Regions from separate parts of the Homo sapiens genome. Here region 1 is linked to region 2. Evidence: fine-mapped expression QTL. A gene starts in region 2. The other region holds a variant in brackets. All regions are shown on one strand. Distances are between the middles of the regions. Region 1 overlaps HAL (histidine ammonia-lyase). Region 2 holds the start of HAL (histidine ammonia-lyase).

Region 1 (8,469 bases), 24 kb before region 2:
TCAGCCCCCCTACTGCACTGTGGGAGCCCTTTTCTGGGCTGGCCAAGGCTGGAGCCCACTCCTTCAGCTTGCAGTGAGGTGTGGAGGGAGAGGCGTGAGCGGGAACAGGGGCTGCGTGCGGCGCTTGCGGGCCACCTGGAGTTCCGGGTGGGCGTGGGCTTAGCAGGCCCCGCACTCGGAGCAGCCGGCCAGCCCTGCTGGCCCCGGGCAGTGAGGGACTTAGCACGCGGGCCAGTGGCTGCGGAGGGTGTACTGAGTCCCCCAGCAGTGCTGGCCCACCAGCGCTGTGCTCGATTTCTCGCCGGGCCTTAGCTGCCTTCCCACGGGGCAGGGCTCGGGACCTGCAGCCCGCCATGCCTGAGCCTCCCACCCACTCCATGGGCTCCTGTGCGGCCCGAGCCTCCCTGACGAGCATCACCCCTGCTCCACGGCGCCCAGTCCCATCGACCACCCAAGGGCTGAGGAATGCGAGCCCATGGCGCAGGACTGGCAGGCAGCTCCACCTGCAGCCCCGGTGCGGGATCCACTAGGTGAAGCCAGCTGGGCTCCTGAGTCTGGTGGGGACTTGGAGAGTCTTTATATCTAGCTCAGGGATTGTAAATACACCAATCAGCACCCTGTGTTTAGCTCAAGGTTTGTGAGTGCACCAATCAACACTCTGTATCTAGCTGCTCTGGTGAGGACGTGGAGAGTCTTTTTTTTTTTTTTTTTCTGAGACGGAGTTTCGCTCTGTCGCCCAGGCTGGAGTGCAGTGGCGCAATCTCGACTCACTGCAAGCTCCGCCTCCCGGGTTCACGCCATTCTCCTGCCTCAGCCTCCCGTGTAGCTGGGACTACAGGCGCGCGCCACCATGCCCGGCTAATTTTTGTATTTTTAGTAGAGACGGGGTTTCACCGTGTTAGCCAGGGTGGTCTCGATCTCCTGACCTCGTGATCCGCCCGTCTCGGCCTCCCAAAGGGAGAGTCTTTATGTCTAGCTCAGGGATTGTAAATACACCAATCGGCACTCTGTATCTAGCTCAAGGTTTGTAAATACACCAATCAGCACCCTGTGTTTAGCTCAAGGTTTGTGAATGCACCAATCGACACTCTGTATCTAGCTGCTCTGGTGGGGCCTTGGAGAACCTGGGTGTGGAAACTGTATCTAACTAATCTGATGGGGATGTGGAGAACCTTTGTATCTAGCTCAGGGATTGTAAACGCACCAATCAGCGCCCTGACAAAACAGGCCACTAGCCTCTACCAATCAGCAGGATGTGGGTGGGGCCAGATAAGAGAATAAAAGCAGGCTGCCCGAGCCAGCATTGGCAACCCGCTGGGGTCCCCTTCCACACTGTGGAAGCTTTGTTCTTTCGCTCTTTGCAATAAATCTTGTTACTGCTCACTCGTTGGGTCCACGCTGCTTTTATGAGCTGTAACACTCACCACGAAGATCTGCAGCTTCACTCCTGAGCTCAGCAAGACCACGAGCCCACCGGGAGGAACGAACAACTTCAGACGCACCATCTTAAGAGCTGTAACACTCAGCCCGAGGGTCCGCGGCTTCATTCTTGAAGTCAGTGAGACCAAGAACCCACCAATTCCGGACACAATCACAATGGGGTCTCTGGAGCTCTGAACCTCATGCGATTATTTAAGAAGTCTTGAGACAGTGTAGGGGGCACACAGTTGCTGTGTGTGATGGCTCCCCTGTGACCAGTCACCTAGGCACTGAACATTTGGGGCGCAGGAGATACACATAAAAGCCAAAACGGAATGTTAGGTCGAGTCTTCCCTGGAACTCAAGCAACACAAGATTAGATTCTTCTATTGAAGAAACAAGAAGGAGAAGCACATCTGATTTTTCATCTAGGAGGCACTCACTTTAAACAAATAGCATTCATGCCTTTTTTGAAAGAAGACAGAAAAAGACATCTACCCAAACTGCCCTAGTCCTCCCAGGCCAGCGTGCTGCAAGCCCGTGCAACTGACGGAGTTTGCTAGGAATGCAGAACCTCTGGCTGGACCCAGACCTGCTGAGTCCGAATCTGCATGCTAATAAGCCCCGGGTGATTCACATGCACATTAAGGTCTGAGCAGCTCTGAGTTCTAAGCCCTAATCACACCAATCTTCACACTGTTCCTTAGGGGACAGTGAGCTGCTCAGGGCCATGCAATACGGTTCCCTCTGCCCAGAATGCTTTCCTTCTCTTCCTTACATGGGAAACTGGAGCTGGACGCCCTTCCCCACATTCCCACATCTCTATGATAGCCTTTGTAGCATTGTAATTTAACTGTCTTTTGTATGTTAGACTAATGAAGTCTACCCTCTGGGCTGAAACTAATGTTCTCCAACTATTTTTTACATTTACATTTACATTTACAATGTTTACATTTAATAAATTAATACTCTCAACAAAAGTAAGCAAAAAGGCAAAATGAGTTGGGAGCAGTGGCTCACGCCTGTTATCCCAGCACTTTGGGAGGCCAAGATATGTGGATCCCTGGAGGTCAGGAGTTCAAGACCAGCCTGACCAACATGGTGAAACCCCATCTCTACTAAAAATACAAAAATTAGCCGGGTGTGATGGCGCATACCCGTAATTCCAGCTACTCGGTAGGCTGAGGCAGGAGAATTGCTTGAACGCAAGAGGCAGAGGTTTGCAGTGAGCTAAGGTAGCATTATTGCACTACAGCCTGGGTGACAGAGCCGAGACTCCATCTCAAAAAAAAAAAAAAAAAAAAGCAAAATGAACCATAAAGAGAACCATAAAGTTTAATAAAAAGCAATCCAGTGACCAGACCCAAAAATCAGACACAGGTTTAAAGCAGTATGAAATGTATCTGCTTTTGAATTTTGCCGGTTGTAATGACTTTTTTTTCTTTTTCTTTTCTTTTTTTTCTTTCTTTCTTTTTTTTTGAGATGGAGTCTCACTCTGTCACCCAGGCTGGAGTGCAGTGGCACGATCTTGGCTCGCTGCAACCTCTGCCACCCAGGATCAAGCAATTCTCCTGCTTCAGCCTCCCGAGTAGCTGGGATTACAGGCACCTGCCACGGTGCCTGGCTAATTTTTGTAATTTTAGTAGAGACAGGGTTTCACCATCTTGGCCAGGGTGGTTTTGAAATCCTGACCTCGTGATCCACTCACCTTGGCCTCCCAAAGTGCTGGGATTACAGGCATGAGCCACTGCACCCAGCCTGTGATGGGATTTTATGCATGTGGTAGATTGTCAGATACAGGCCCATGGATCACGTCAAATCACATGCCCATGCCCTTGAGTGTTACCCTCCCAAATTGACTCTGGGCCTGGAACGTGACTCGCTTTAGCCAACAGGACATTAGCGAACGTGGCACAACAGGGACTTGAAAAGCCCTTGTTCTTTAGGGTTTGCCTCCTCCAGCTGCCCTGAGACAACTTGTGACAAAGACCAGGTGAGCCTGCGGGGCTGGGGAGGAAATCCTGATACCTCCAACTCTTTTGTTGCTAGCCAATGGGAAAAAGAGTGTACTGAGTCAAGCATATTGTTCTTAAAACGGTTGACATCTGTCAACTGAATCCTTCAGAAGCTTGATTAACTGCTGTTAGAGGCGCTTAACTTTGCTATAAATACCTAAGAATAAAGCGACACCATAAGGCAATTGAGACTTAGTTTATTCCATGTTTCCCTTGAAGTTCCCTTGAAGGCGTGTGCTGTCAGTTACTAATAGAGCTGTGTAGAAAACTCAGTGACAAAGTGTCATTTTGACCTGGAGGGCTGCAGGGGCTGAAAGAATCCAGCATTCCCCAAACTGGAGCGAAGAGCACCATGAGACCACTGGGGGTTACTGGCTCAATGGCAGCCCACGGATGACAATGCACAAACCTCATTTGTGTGTGTTCACATTTTGACAAGGAATAGCACCAAGAACAACCTTTAGGTAAACAGTCTCCTCAGCACATTTTTTGCTCCCTGAATTGCTGTGTGCAGCAGTTTTCACTTCAGTTTCCACCTGACAGGTTGTAAATCTAAAGGGTGAAAACTCTATTGTGAAATCCACTGTTCGGCCCATTTTAGATGGCAATTAGGTAGGCAAGGTGGCAAGTGTGTCTGTCCTCCTCTCCACCAGCTGTGGTTTTTAGAGCCACGGTTTCAGACCACTTGAAGGGCCTTGCACATATATGCACACACTGGTGCAAAGTCACAGAGCTTAGACTTGGGAAGCCAAGAGGTCATGTGACCCATCCTTCATCTGGACAGATACACTTAAGCCATCCCTGAAGGTCCTTTATCTTCTCGGGGAAAAAAATAGATGCAGTAATACACTCTAGGGCTCCATCTGACCTTTATCAATAGGACTTATTTTAATGATTACCATTACAGAAAGGAGGTTGGTTAATCCCCAAAGATTCCTTATCTGTGAAATGAGGAAGGTTACAATAAGAATGTGAATAGAGTACTAACACCAAGGAAGTGAAAATACTAACCTCAAACTCCCATGTAAGCATTTGGGGGATACGTGTAGTGATAAGTACAAAATACACAGTTTAATAAGAGCCACCCAAATAGCAATCTTTATATTCATTCCTTATCTCCTTTGCACATGAAACTCCTTGTTGGTTTTAATCACCTCTACAATTAATAGCTGAAGACCCTATTGACTACTCTTTACTATGATCCAATTAATAGAAGAAAAAAGCAGCTTAAGGACAAATTATGACTTAAAATGGTTATTTATGAAGGCATATTAAGGCATATCATGCAAAGTAAAATTAGCCAAAGAAAGTCAACTGGTGGAGAGCTTGTTGAAGCAAATT[T/TAAAA]AAAAAAAAAAAAAAAGGTTAACAAAAGTCTAATGTTTTTAGAAAAAATTGCTATCAATCTGTTTCCAAATTTGAATTCATCTAATGCTAAGAGTAAAAAACAGGCACATACAATTGTGGTTATTCTTCTCACCCTTAAGAGTGAGTGGCCTGTTGAAACTGTTAAGAAAGAAAGAAAAGTTTTATAATCTGAAAATACCTGGTGGGTCTTGAACCACGACAACAGGAACACAGTGCTGAATTTAGCAACTATAATACTGCCATCAGCCTAACCAACGTAGGCTTTAGAAGAACTGAATGATACAATGGATTGATCTACCTAGGAAAGTTCTCAGGTCTCTCCTTCAGCCTAGTATTGCTTTGTGCTAAACTGACTGCCCTCTCATCTGCTACTTCATGACAAAGCCCATTAAAGGTCCTCAGACTCCGGGATTTTGGTGGATTTCTTGTGCAGAAATTGCAGTGAAAAGGCTGTTGGAGAAAGAGGTCTTGATTCTGGAATATGCTCCATTCTGTATTTTTCAATGTATGGAGCAGCTACTTCCCAAACCTGAAAAGCAAGGACAAAACAAAGTTGAAATATTGACGACATTGTTTCCACATGCTATTAAACATCAACTTCATCCGAAGTCAAAACATACTCTATACATGACCAGACACAGCTGCTGTTTGCTTGCTTTTATTTTAAGCCATTTGACACATGACCTGTGTCAATTAGTCTTTGGTTGCATTAAAGACTGTAAATATACAAAGTCCAAAACTTTCTAAAGTCATCATAAAGATTTTAAGCTGCATACTTTTCCTAAGCAAAACAAGCAAGCAAATAACAAAACCCAGAGAATTCAGTGTGGATAGAGTGAAGGATAGTTGCTCCAGGGTCTTAACAGTACCTATGTGGTTTTTTTCTTGTTTTTTTGTTTTTTTTCTTTTTTTGTGAGACAGAGTCTCACTCTGTCGCCCAGGCTGGAGTGCAGTAGCATGATCTCAGCTCACTGCAACCTCCACCTTCCAGGTTCAAGCAATTCTTGTGCCTCAGCCTCCTGAGTAGCTGGGATTACAGGTGCATGCCACCAGGCCCAGCTAATTTTTGTATTTTTAGCAGAGATGGGGTTTCACCATGTTGGCCAGGCTGGTCTCGAATTTCTGGCCTCAAGTGATCCACCCACCACAGCTTCCCAAAGTGCTGGGATTACAGGCGTGAGCCACCACACATGGCCTGGACCTGTGTGTTTTCTAAAGCAAGCCTTAAATGGTAAAAGGCAGTGAATTGTATTTCCCTATTGCCTTATTTCCATGCCACAGGTGCTCTGTTCCTTTGACCCTGCTACTCAAAGCGTGGCCTGTGCCCCTGCAGTATCAGCATCACCTGGGACAAGTCAGAATCTTGGCCTTCACCCAGACCTACTGAATCCACACCTGCATTTTAACAAGATGCCCAGCAGATTCATAGCCACTTTAATGTTGGAGAGGCACTGCCTCAGATCCTTGGTTAGCTTTTGCCTCCCACCCACCAACCTCTTTTTTCTTTTTTTTTTTTTTTCTTAAGCATAACATCATCTCAAAGTAAGGCCCTGGACGGGCATGGTGGCATGTGCCTGTAGTCCCAGCTACTCAAGAAGCCAAAGTGGGAGGATCACTTGAGCCCAGGAGTTTGAGTCCAGCCTTGGCAACATAGCAAGACCCGCATCTCTAAAAAAATTTTTTTTTAAATTGAATGAAATTAAGGCCCTGTTTTTGGTTTATATCTGCTTTTTAACTGATTGCCACTGACAGCCAAGGAGCCTTTCCTATTATTTTTTATGACCTTAGCAAATGAATACTCTTAAAGGCTAACCTCTCGTATACCTCCCTCCTAGCACCAAAGTTGGCAGCAGGCAAGCAGCTTCCCCATCCAGAGTGCAGGGCATGCTTAGAAATAATGGGTGTGAAAATCACAGGGAAAAATCACTGCCCCAGAGCAGAGCAACTGTTTTAAGGAAATCAAGCGATTCTAGGGAACATAACACCCACAAGTTATTCAAAAGGTTTAAAGCACTTCAAAAACGATATTTAAAAGATAAGCCAGCATGCTGGGCATCTGTACCTGGCAGCTGAGTATACGGTCAATGTAACCAGTGGAAATATGCAAGAAAGAAAAACCCGCATCTCACCAGAGCACTAGACAGACCGAAAGTCTTCTGAAGTAAACACCCGGGCCTTGGTTTTCTCTCCAGGTCTACGCAGCCATTGCACCCAGTGGTGGTAGTTGTGATAGCATCACCCAGAAGGGAACGCACTTTTGAATCAAAGAGGACATCTTGCAGGGGTGGGGAGGCATCAATGAACCTGACATCTTATTTTTTTCCCCATGAATATTGTCCCAAAACTCCATTTAAAATCCATTTCTGTTTCTAATCCTTAGATATTCAACCGTTGGCTGCACCCTGGTGCACTTAGTGTTTATTATATGGCTTCTTAGTGGTGCTGCAAGTTGTTGCTCAAATACCTTTTTGCTCATTCCCAAGGAATGGCCAGAAAACAATAGAATAAGGCAATGTTTCTCCATCCCCGACTTTGCTTTCCTGTAACAATTAAAAATTAAGAAACAAGCCAAGGAGCCAGCTTGCCTTCTGCTCCAGGAGCAGCCTGTGGGCTGCCTCGATGTCCGGGGCCATGAAGCGATCTTTTATCCAGGGCCTACAGGGAGAGCACATCCGCCCATCAGCCAAACATGAAACCCTGCCAGGGTTCACAGTGCTGAACTGATGTAATTTTCAGAGACCTGTTTGATCTTACCTTACAACAGAGCGCACCAGGTCATAGACCTTCTCCAGCGGAGTGGTTGTTTTCAGGGGACGTAGAAACTCTATGCCCTGGCAGGCTGCAAGGAGCTCGATGGCCAGCACTGAAACAAGAAATTCCAAGAGGGTAGCTTATGAAAGTCTGACTTCATGCTTAAGGAATGTGGATTTCCCAAAGTTGACACCCATCACCACCCAACTAACAGATGGTTTGTTCTCTGTCTATTGGTAGAATGAAGTTGCTTTGGTATTTAGTTGCCATTTTAACCTGTTTTCTAACCCCTTGACTATATCTTTAATGCTGAGAAGGGGAGAATTGAGACATTTACCTGAATAATTACCAGACCTGCACACCTACCCAGGAAGCTGCCCATTCATCTGCACTAGCAAAATCTGCCATGTCCCCCATTCACATCCTCTAACAAAGGTTTGTTGGCCAAGTTTGGGTCATGTGGGTAGGGAAGGAAGTCAGAAAGAAGAGCTGATCCTCATCTTGAGCCCCAGTTCTATTAAATAATTGTATGCATTTCATCAAGATGCTTTACATCTCGTGGTTTCCAATTCCATATGAATTGCGGGGTGGGGATACTGGACTAGAAGATGAGAAATTGCTTCCAGGTCCACCGTGAATTCCACAACTTCATCCTCTCCCACTGTGACCTGTCTGCACTCACTAGAGTTCATAGTGTACTTCATAAATTGAATGTGCTGTTGAATCAAGGTGGGGTGTGAGAGTTCATGGTACTCTTCTCTCCACTTTGAATATGTTTTAAAAGTCTCATTAAAAAAAAAACCACTTTGGGGGTGAGGTGGGAGGATCGCTTGAGGCCAAGAGTTTGAGACCAGCCAAGGCAACACAGCAAGACCCCATCTTTACAAAAAATTTAAAAATTACCCAGGTGTGGTGGTGCTTG
Region 2 (8,000 bases):
TCTTTCTGCATCCCTTCTCACCTCGGCACCTAGTTCTTGAAATGCTGTTTTGAGAAACTAGCTTTTTGTGACTATAACTGGATAACTCACACTGTGCTGTGCTTTATTCATCTAATCACACAAGATCCAGGAGGCACCCAACGTTTTGACTTACCTGAAGAATGTGAGCGTACTAAGTTGACCTGAAGCTCCCTGCAACAGAAAGGTAAAAACCCTCTTAGATACATTGCAGTGAGAAAATGTTCCCTCAGCTGGGAAAATGAAGGGAATCATGGTCAAATCCTTGGAGGGACAGAAGGAAGGCAATGGGAGAAACCAGCCAGCCTGGGTTTTCAATACCAACTCACATGCAAGGTAACCCAAGCCTCATCCTCTGATCTGTAAATTGGGGCAAATGTGAATTATTTCCCTTGTTGAAAAATATTTAAAAGATGAGGGTAGGTGGAACGTGAACATATGTGTGTTTTAAACTTACTGTAGCTTATTGATAGGAATTACAGTTCTGGCAAATTTCCCAAAACCTGTAGTAATACCGTAAACAACTAGAATAAAAAGAGACATTATGCAATTAAATGCAGGGATTTTTGTTTGTTTATAAAAATATTTATAACATAAAGATAAAAAGATACCTGTTTTCTCTTTTATGATGCTATCTATGACCTCCCTGGATTTCTGCACCCTCTTCTCAGCTGTTGGGGTGAGCTAGGAAAATGTTGATCAGAACTGAGCACGTTAAAGACTTCCACGGGCAACAAAAATGGCCAGAGGACATCTTTCCCCTCCCTCCCCATACCTTTATTTTGTAGCGTCCCTTTCCCAAGTTGACCAGATCCTCCGTGGTCAGACGGTCTCCATCTAACTCGATGTACTACACAAAAGAAGGGGATCTCAGTGAGTCTGAACAGCTTGATTATTCTAACCAGAGTAGGGACACCTCCAACAGAACCAAACTGACATTTCAGAGATCTGATCATTGCGTGAAACATGAATATGCTAAATAAAAATGCATCTTGCATAAGAGGAGGCTTATTGGTGCAAAAGCATAATGCCTTTCCAAGCCCCCTTTCCCCACTACAGAGCTGGATAAAGCCCTGTGGTTGGTTGGTTTGTTTGTTTTGAGGCAGAGTCTCCAGCCCAGGCTGGAGTGCAGTGGTACAAACATGGCTCACTGCAACCTCTGCCTCCTGGGTTCAAGCAATTCTCGTGCCTCAGGCTCCTGAGTAGCTGGTATTACAGGTGCACGCCACCATACCTGGCTAATTTTTGTACTTTTAGTAGAGATGGGGTTTCACCATGTTGGCCAGGCTGGTTTCAAACTGATGACCTCAAGTGAACTGCCCACCTCGGCCACCCAAAGTGCTGGGACTACAGACATGAGTCACTGCTCCCGGCCAGCCCTGTTCTAATTGACAGTGTTTTCTCAGAAGTTTTCCTGGCTTTCCTCCCTCTTAAATAAGGGGCCTTAATTTTCTGAAGAAAAAGAAAGTGGTTTGAAGCTTACCTTTTCAGGCTCCCGGTACTTGCTGTATCTGTATCCAGGTAAAGGAACATATAGGGTGGTGTGGAAAAACCCCCAGCCCCACCATCTGCAGGAGCCACCCCCAGAGCAGACCAAAGAGCCTGTGGGAAAGGATACAGATAAACTCCTTCTGGTTGAGATGGAATGAAGTCAGGAGACATGGCATCACCCTCTATAACTAAAACAATGCACGGGAGACTCGTTACAGATCACATTGTACAGCCATGTTCCCCCTGTTAAACCAAGGAACGGCCCATCATTGGCCCATGAATTCTATAGAAATGGCTGCTTTAAAACTGCTTCAGATGGTTTCATGTGGTCTTAGCATCTTTATGTAGGAGGAGAGCAAAAAGCAGAAAGGTAGGTGTCAGGGCAGAGACCAGGGGTTTAGATGAAAGTTCAAGACAGAATTCCACTTCCATCCCCATTCCCAGCTTTATTTTCTTCAAAATCTGAACTGATGCTATGCTGCCGGCCTCCAGTCTGGGGGTGGGGGTGGATTCTTTCGAAAGGCAAAATAACCTCAAAATGATTCAGTCACTGCAAAGGGATTCAGACCTGCAGCCTTGAGTACCAGTCTAGTCTTTGTTACTTACTAGCTGCTGGAGTCTGGGTAAGTTACCTCCTCTCTGATTTCTCCTCCATCAGAGGTGGAGGAGAATCCTACCCATCTCACAGGGTTGTGTGAGGACTTAAGATCCCCAGAGGCGTGGCATGTGCCTGCACAGGGCCAGCCTCGGCAAGCCTGACCTCTGCTCATCATTTTCCCTGAGGTGGGGGTTCAATGCTGCAAAGACTAAGCCAGGCCAAACCGCACCCGTTCGCGGCCCTCTCCTGCAGCCACTCACCCACTTCCACGAACTCGTTGTTCTCTAGGGCCACCTCGAGCCGGTCCTCGTTGTCCAGCAGGCCCAGGCCCTTGCACCGGCGCACAAGGAAGTGCGCGTCATCCACGGAGGTGAAGCCACCATTGTCGGGCTTATTCTTGATATAGCGCCTCACGGCCTCCCGGCCCAGCCAGCCCACAGTGAGCTGCGCGTCCTGGCAGGGCACTGCCAGCCATTCCCCACGTACGTGCACCGTGTATCTGGGCATGGCTCCGCTGCAGCCTGAGGTCCTCAGCTGGTCACAGGAGGGGAGAGCTTTATGCAGGAGTGGCTACCGGGGTGTGGTCAGCTGGAAGGATGAGAATAGACTTTCAAACCACTCCCCCTCCTTCACCTTTACTCATTCATGCATTGGACAAATATTTATTGAGGTACCTGCTGTCCCTTTGGTTTTTGTAGCCGAGCAGGGGCAGGAGCAGGGGATGCAGACGGGTGAGCCTCCTGTCCACTTTCCATCCAGACCTGCTGCCAGAAAGGCCTGGGGTCTCCCACCCTGGGAGGTGCTGTTCTTGTCCCTGATGGCACCTACCTGCTGCTGGCCCCCTTTCTTCAGGGTCCCCAATTTCTCTCTCTTCCCTCGTTTCTGTCTGTGTTCTCTGCCATTAAGGGCAGCTTATAAACACCATGTTCCTGTCTTTATCTGAGATTACTCAACTGTAAAACGTGTTCTGTGGGCCAACTGTGACACTGGGAGTGTGGCAATCGTCACTCATTTGTTTATTCCACAAACATGTATTGAGCAACTACTTCCTGTCACCAGTAAGGTTTTCTGAAGCTTTCTTTCCACCAGGGAAGACTGCAAAGGCCAGAGATCATTTTCACAACTAAAGGTCGTCATCTGGGCAAATGAACCACTCTGACTTGGAGATTAGGGGCTCAGACAGCCGTGGATGAGAGTCCAGCTCTACTACTTATTAGCCTTGATTAGGTGAGTATTACCCTGTATTTCCTTATCAGAAGGCCTAGGGGCTAACTGCCTCCTTCCAGTATGTGCAGGATTTACCTGTGATCAAATCCTGGCTCTGCCATTTGCTAAGTGTATGACTTGTGGGCAAGTGATTTGACTTCTCTGGGCCTCAGTTGCCTCATCTGTAAAATGAAGATAATGGTAATGATGATAGTATATATGTCAAAGGGCTATTGGGAGGATGAAGTCAGTTCATATATGTAAAGCCCTCAACACAACACCTGGCATAGTGGAAATATTATAGAAGTGTCTGTGATTACTAGTATCTGGACACCAATACTCCATGTAACTATAATGCTTTATAAATGTTCTGTATGAATCATAAAGCTATAAAGTTCCATAAATGCTCTTTCATCTTGGCACATGGATATCCCTCACCCAATTAAGCTTCTTCACCACAGATAACTGCTCCCTGCACCCGCCTTATTACCATTGGTATTAAGGAACTCTGGATAGCATGATTACGGCATCAAAGATATGCAGATGCTATTTTGACTAAGCAGCACTTTCATCGTAAGCCAATTTTTAGAGATTTGATTATTGCACTAGAAAAATCCTGAAAAGTCTGTTTCCACTAAATCAGACTTCTGTTGGGAAGAGAGACATGGTTGCTCAAGAAAAACACCTATACTCATACCCAGAGTCCCTCTCATCTGCTGACAGCTTCCCAGGAAGCGTACAAATAGCTACCCTTCCTTGAGCCTTATTGAAACTTGCTCTTCAGATACCCACACCATGACTGCACCCTGGAATTTGTCATGACCTGAATTTGACACACTTAAGAAATCACCCTGGAATCTGTCACGACCTGAATTTGACACACTTAAGAAATCTGAAATTCCAATATTCCACCTTCTGACCACAACCTTCCAGCTGCCCTTTTACTCTAGTCACTGCCAGCCTTGGACCTGACCTCCAGTCAGTCTCTTCATCCCTCCACTTCCCACCAGCATCCTCACTTACTATCCTAGGAAGCTGGTCCCTAGTCGCTCACTGGACCACTCTTTCTTAAGCACTCTGAGATTCCTTTGCATCCCTAAACTTATGTCTACACTTGGAATAACACCCATCCCCTTAGTCATCACAAAAAACAGCCATCTCTTGGAAGGATTGCTTAAGCCTAGGCAGTCAATGCTGCAATGAGTTATGATTATACCACTGTACTCCAGCCTGGGTGAGAGCAAGACCCTGTTTAAAATTAAAAGAAACTGTCATATCTGTTCACCCAGGCAGAAGACACTGATAGAGAAAGTCCTGTGATCACATAGTTTGATGGTATTGCCCTTTTATTCCATCCAGCCCACAGTGACTTTCCAAAACTTTGACCCCTCTGCCAGGACCTTCTCGACATCCACCTCTAATTCTCAGAAGGAGACCTTACTTCCTACATCTGTGAGAAAACTGAGGACTGCACATGTGAACCACCTTAACCTTCTGCCCCACCCCCCCCCATTCATTCCTTGACTCATTTAACAAATATTTTTTCAACACCTGTTATGTAACAAGCTCTATGCGAGGTGCTGGGGATGAAATAAATAACAAACACGCTCTACATTCATGAGGCTTACTGTCTGGTGATGGATAAAGCTGTATAAAGATGACTAATAAGAGGTCTAACTATCTTCATGCTGCAAAACAACCCAAACTACTGCATGCTCCAGTTGACTGTCACTGCCGAGACCAGCTTCTGAGTAATTTCAGCCCAGGCATCAGACTAGTGAGGGAAGGAGCTTCCAGGTGATACCACCTCCCAGCCATGTAAGTCACCCCCAGCAGTTTGAGGATTCTAAACTCAGGCCCTACGCATTGTGGAGCAGAGTCTTCCTTGTTATTCTTTCTCCAGAAACGCACTTTCCAACTTCCTTTGCCTGTCTAGATCTTTCTTACTCCTTAAGCCTGTTTAGGCCTTTTCTTCTCCAGGAAGCATTCCCTAAATTCTTCAGTTGGGTTAAGTGGCCCTTCTCTGGGATGCCTTAGCATAGCTCTTCTTTAGTATTATCTAGGAAATTACTTGTCTGTGTTCATCCATAATTATGTATATATCCGATCTGGCACAAAGACATTTAGCATATGCTTACTAGCTGAACTGAAGAAATGTGAACTGCACCGAGCTGGCCCCTAGGTAAACCAGCAAGCAGGATTAAGTTTGTCTTTAGCGCCCTCTACCTTCTTCACAGCACCCTTCCATGCCACCCTTCAAGCATCCCTTGTCACAATTCACTTTCAGTATCACTAAGTGATAACTAAAAACGACATTAACTTACAGCTTGTCTTGTAAGCTCATAGGGCAGAAGCCTTAAAGAGCAGTATTTGGGTAAATGGATTTGCTAAAGTCTAATCTTAGAACATGATCTTATGCCAGTGATTTGAGCTGAACTCCCTTCTCTGTATTCTTGGCAAGGAAGGCAAGGGAGAGCAGAGCCTGGAGAAAGAATCACACTGCAGCATAGATAAGTGACCAAGAGGACAGAACGAGGCGGGTGGATTGCTTGAGCCCAGGAGTTCGAGACCAGCCTGGGCAACATGGCCAAACTCTTTCTCTACAAAACAAAAATTAGCCAGACATGGTGGTGCATGCCTGTAGTCTCAGCTACTCCAGAGGCTGAGGTGGGAGGATGGCTTGAACCCAGAGGCTGATGCTGCAGTGAGCTATGGTCATGCCACTGCACTCCAGCCTGGGCGACAGAGTGAGACCCTGTCTCAAAACAAAACAAAACAAAAACTGCTAGGGAGAGTGAGAGCCAGGGAAAAGTCAGGATTCCGGGAATAGGCAGGAATATGTCTCTTCCATACCTGTCCCACCTTGGGTGTTCACTCCTATTGTAACTTTAGTCACTGCATTAGCACTTTGAGGGGTTATTTGGTCAGGACACCGCTCCCCACCCCCACCCCATGCCAACAATTATACTCTAAGACACCATTCCTCTTACACAATTTATTTGACCAGAGGTGGACCCAACCTGGGTTAGAGTCTCACCTCTGGGAATTTGGAATTGTGATAGCCTCCCCATGTGGTCAGAGCTATTTGTAACAGTAAAGCTGGAGAGTGGCCGGCCTGTACAACGTGGACTAGAGAGGCAGAGGTGAGGGACAGGAGCACTGACGGTGCTGCAGTCCTGGGCATCAGACCCCTTCTGTCCGTCCCAGGTTCTGATAATCTCCCCATACCTAGCATCCTTAAAATAATCTTCCTTTTCCCTTTTTGACTTCTGGTCACTTGGATTGCTGTTACTTGCAATCAAAGAATTCTAACACAGCTATGGTTCTAATTAATTCTAACTAATAGAGCTAATACACTAATAATTCTACCTAGTACAGCTATGTGTGCTGAGATGCCCTGGGGCACTACGTTGCATTGGCAGGGGTGCTTTGTTATGTTTGTCTTTTATTTGGTTCAAGTTATTTTGTTGTCTTTGAACAGACTGTGAGAGGGATGGGAAAGACTGGTGCTTGGGGTGGCCATCTGACCCCTGATGGACAGGAGACCAGGACAAGCCCACTGGATGAGCCGGAGGGGTCCAGGAGGAGGGAGTTGAGAGCTCCTGCTAGGGTTGACACATTCTGGTAAGGAGTTCATCTGCTGTCCACCAGGTAGGTGGTGTGCAAATACAACTAAGCATTCATGTTTAAGGTTTTTTTTTAATTTTTTATTTTTCGAGGCAGAGTCTCCATTGCCCAGGCTGGAGTGCAATGGCGCCATCTCGGCTCACTACAACCCCTGCCTCCCAGATTAAAGTGCTTATCCTCCCTCAGCCTCCTGAGTAGCTGGAATTACAGTCGTGCCTCCACGCCCAGCTAATTTTTGTATTTTTAGTAGAGACGGGGTTTCACCATGTTGGCCAGGCTGGTCTCAAACTCCTGACCTCAGGTGATTCACCCGCCTTGGCCTCCCAAAGTGCTGGGATTACAGGCATGAACCACTGCGCCCGGACTTATGTTTAAGGTTATTTAAAAAGCAAAGCAAAATCCTAACCATGTTGAATTTTTGAATCTGCAGCAGATTCAAATTAATGAATTTAAATCATATATCAGGTAAAATACTACCTTGACATATTTTGTGATCATACTGAGAGAAAATTAATATAAAGCTAATTCAAAATTTTTTAATTTGTAAATCAAAAGATTAAACCTTGTTAAAATTTACAAAGAATATGCCACTATAAGAAGAAGTAGCTCAACTTTATTTCAGTAAAATCACCAACAAAACAATAAAAAGCCAAAACTAAAAAGACAGTTTTAATTGTGAGCTGAAGTTTTATATTTCTTTACGAATTCCATTTAAAAAAGAGAAATCTCTAAAATCATCAATACGCAGGTCTTTAATCCACTTTTAAGTCTTTCCCCACCAGCATTGCAGTCACGGGATGCATGCTTGCTTTGTGCTCTTGGTAGGTTCGGACAGCTTGATCATGGGATTTGTCAAAGGCAGCAAGATCCCTGCCAAAAAAGAAAAAATTGAAAAGAAAGAAAGGCGAGAAGGAGACAGAGGAGGAGAAAGGGAGGGAGAGAAGAAAGAAAGGAGGGAAGGGGTTCAGAGGAAAGGAAAAAGGAAGGAGAAAGAGAATAAGAACACAAGTCAATACCCAAGATTAAATTAAAGGATGTCAGCAGGGGTGACAGCCAGCAT

What was found.
Region 1: its variant is fine-mapped to the expression of HAL in whole blood (INTERVAL, PIP above 0.99).

The regions. Positions count from the first base shown.
Region 1 is chr12:95,969,048-95,977,516 of GRCh38, forward strand. HAL (histidine ammonia-lyase) reads right to left here. Exons shown (of 21, transcript NM_002108.4): 19 at 7,551-7,659; 20 at 7,382-7,451; 21 at 3,615-5,325. The coding sequence ends at 5,185. Among named protein-coding and RNA genes, the nearest start is that of HAL, 23 kb to the right of the region's middle. RefSeq lists enhancers at 1,058-1,703, 1,704-2,349. The variant T/TAAAA (reference allele first, on the strand shown) is at 4,776.
Region 2 is chr12:95,993,297-96,001,296 of GRCh38, forward strand. It overlaps HAL (histidine ammonia-lyase), which reads right to left and starts at 3,048. Exons shown (of 21, transcript NM_002108.4): 1 at 2,782-3,048; 2 at 2,368-2,695; 3 at 1,637-1,697; 4 at 1,502-1,529; 5 at 794-868; 6 at 630-702; 7 at 476-542; 8 at 155-192. The coding sequence starts at 2,614. LTA4H (leukotriene A4 hydrolase) reads right to left here. Exons shown (of 19, transcript NM_000895.3): 19 at 7,457-7,810. The coding sequence ends at 7,693. It overlaps LOC102723340 (a long non-coding RNA gene), which reads left to right and starts at 3,186. Exons shown (of 4, transcript XR_945237.4): 1 at 3,186-3,334; 2 at 5,035-5,131; 3 at 6,795-6,964. RefSeq lists enhancers at 3,261-3,430, 4,655-4,949, 5,396-5,455.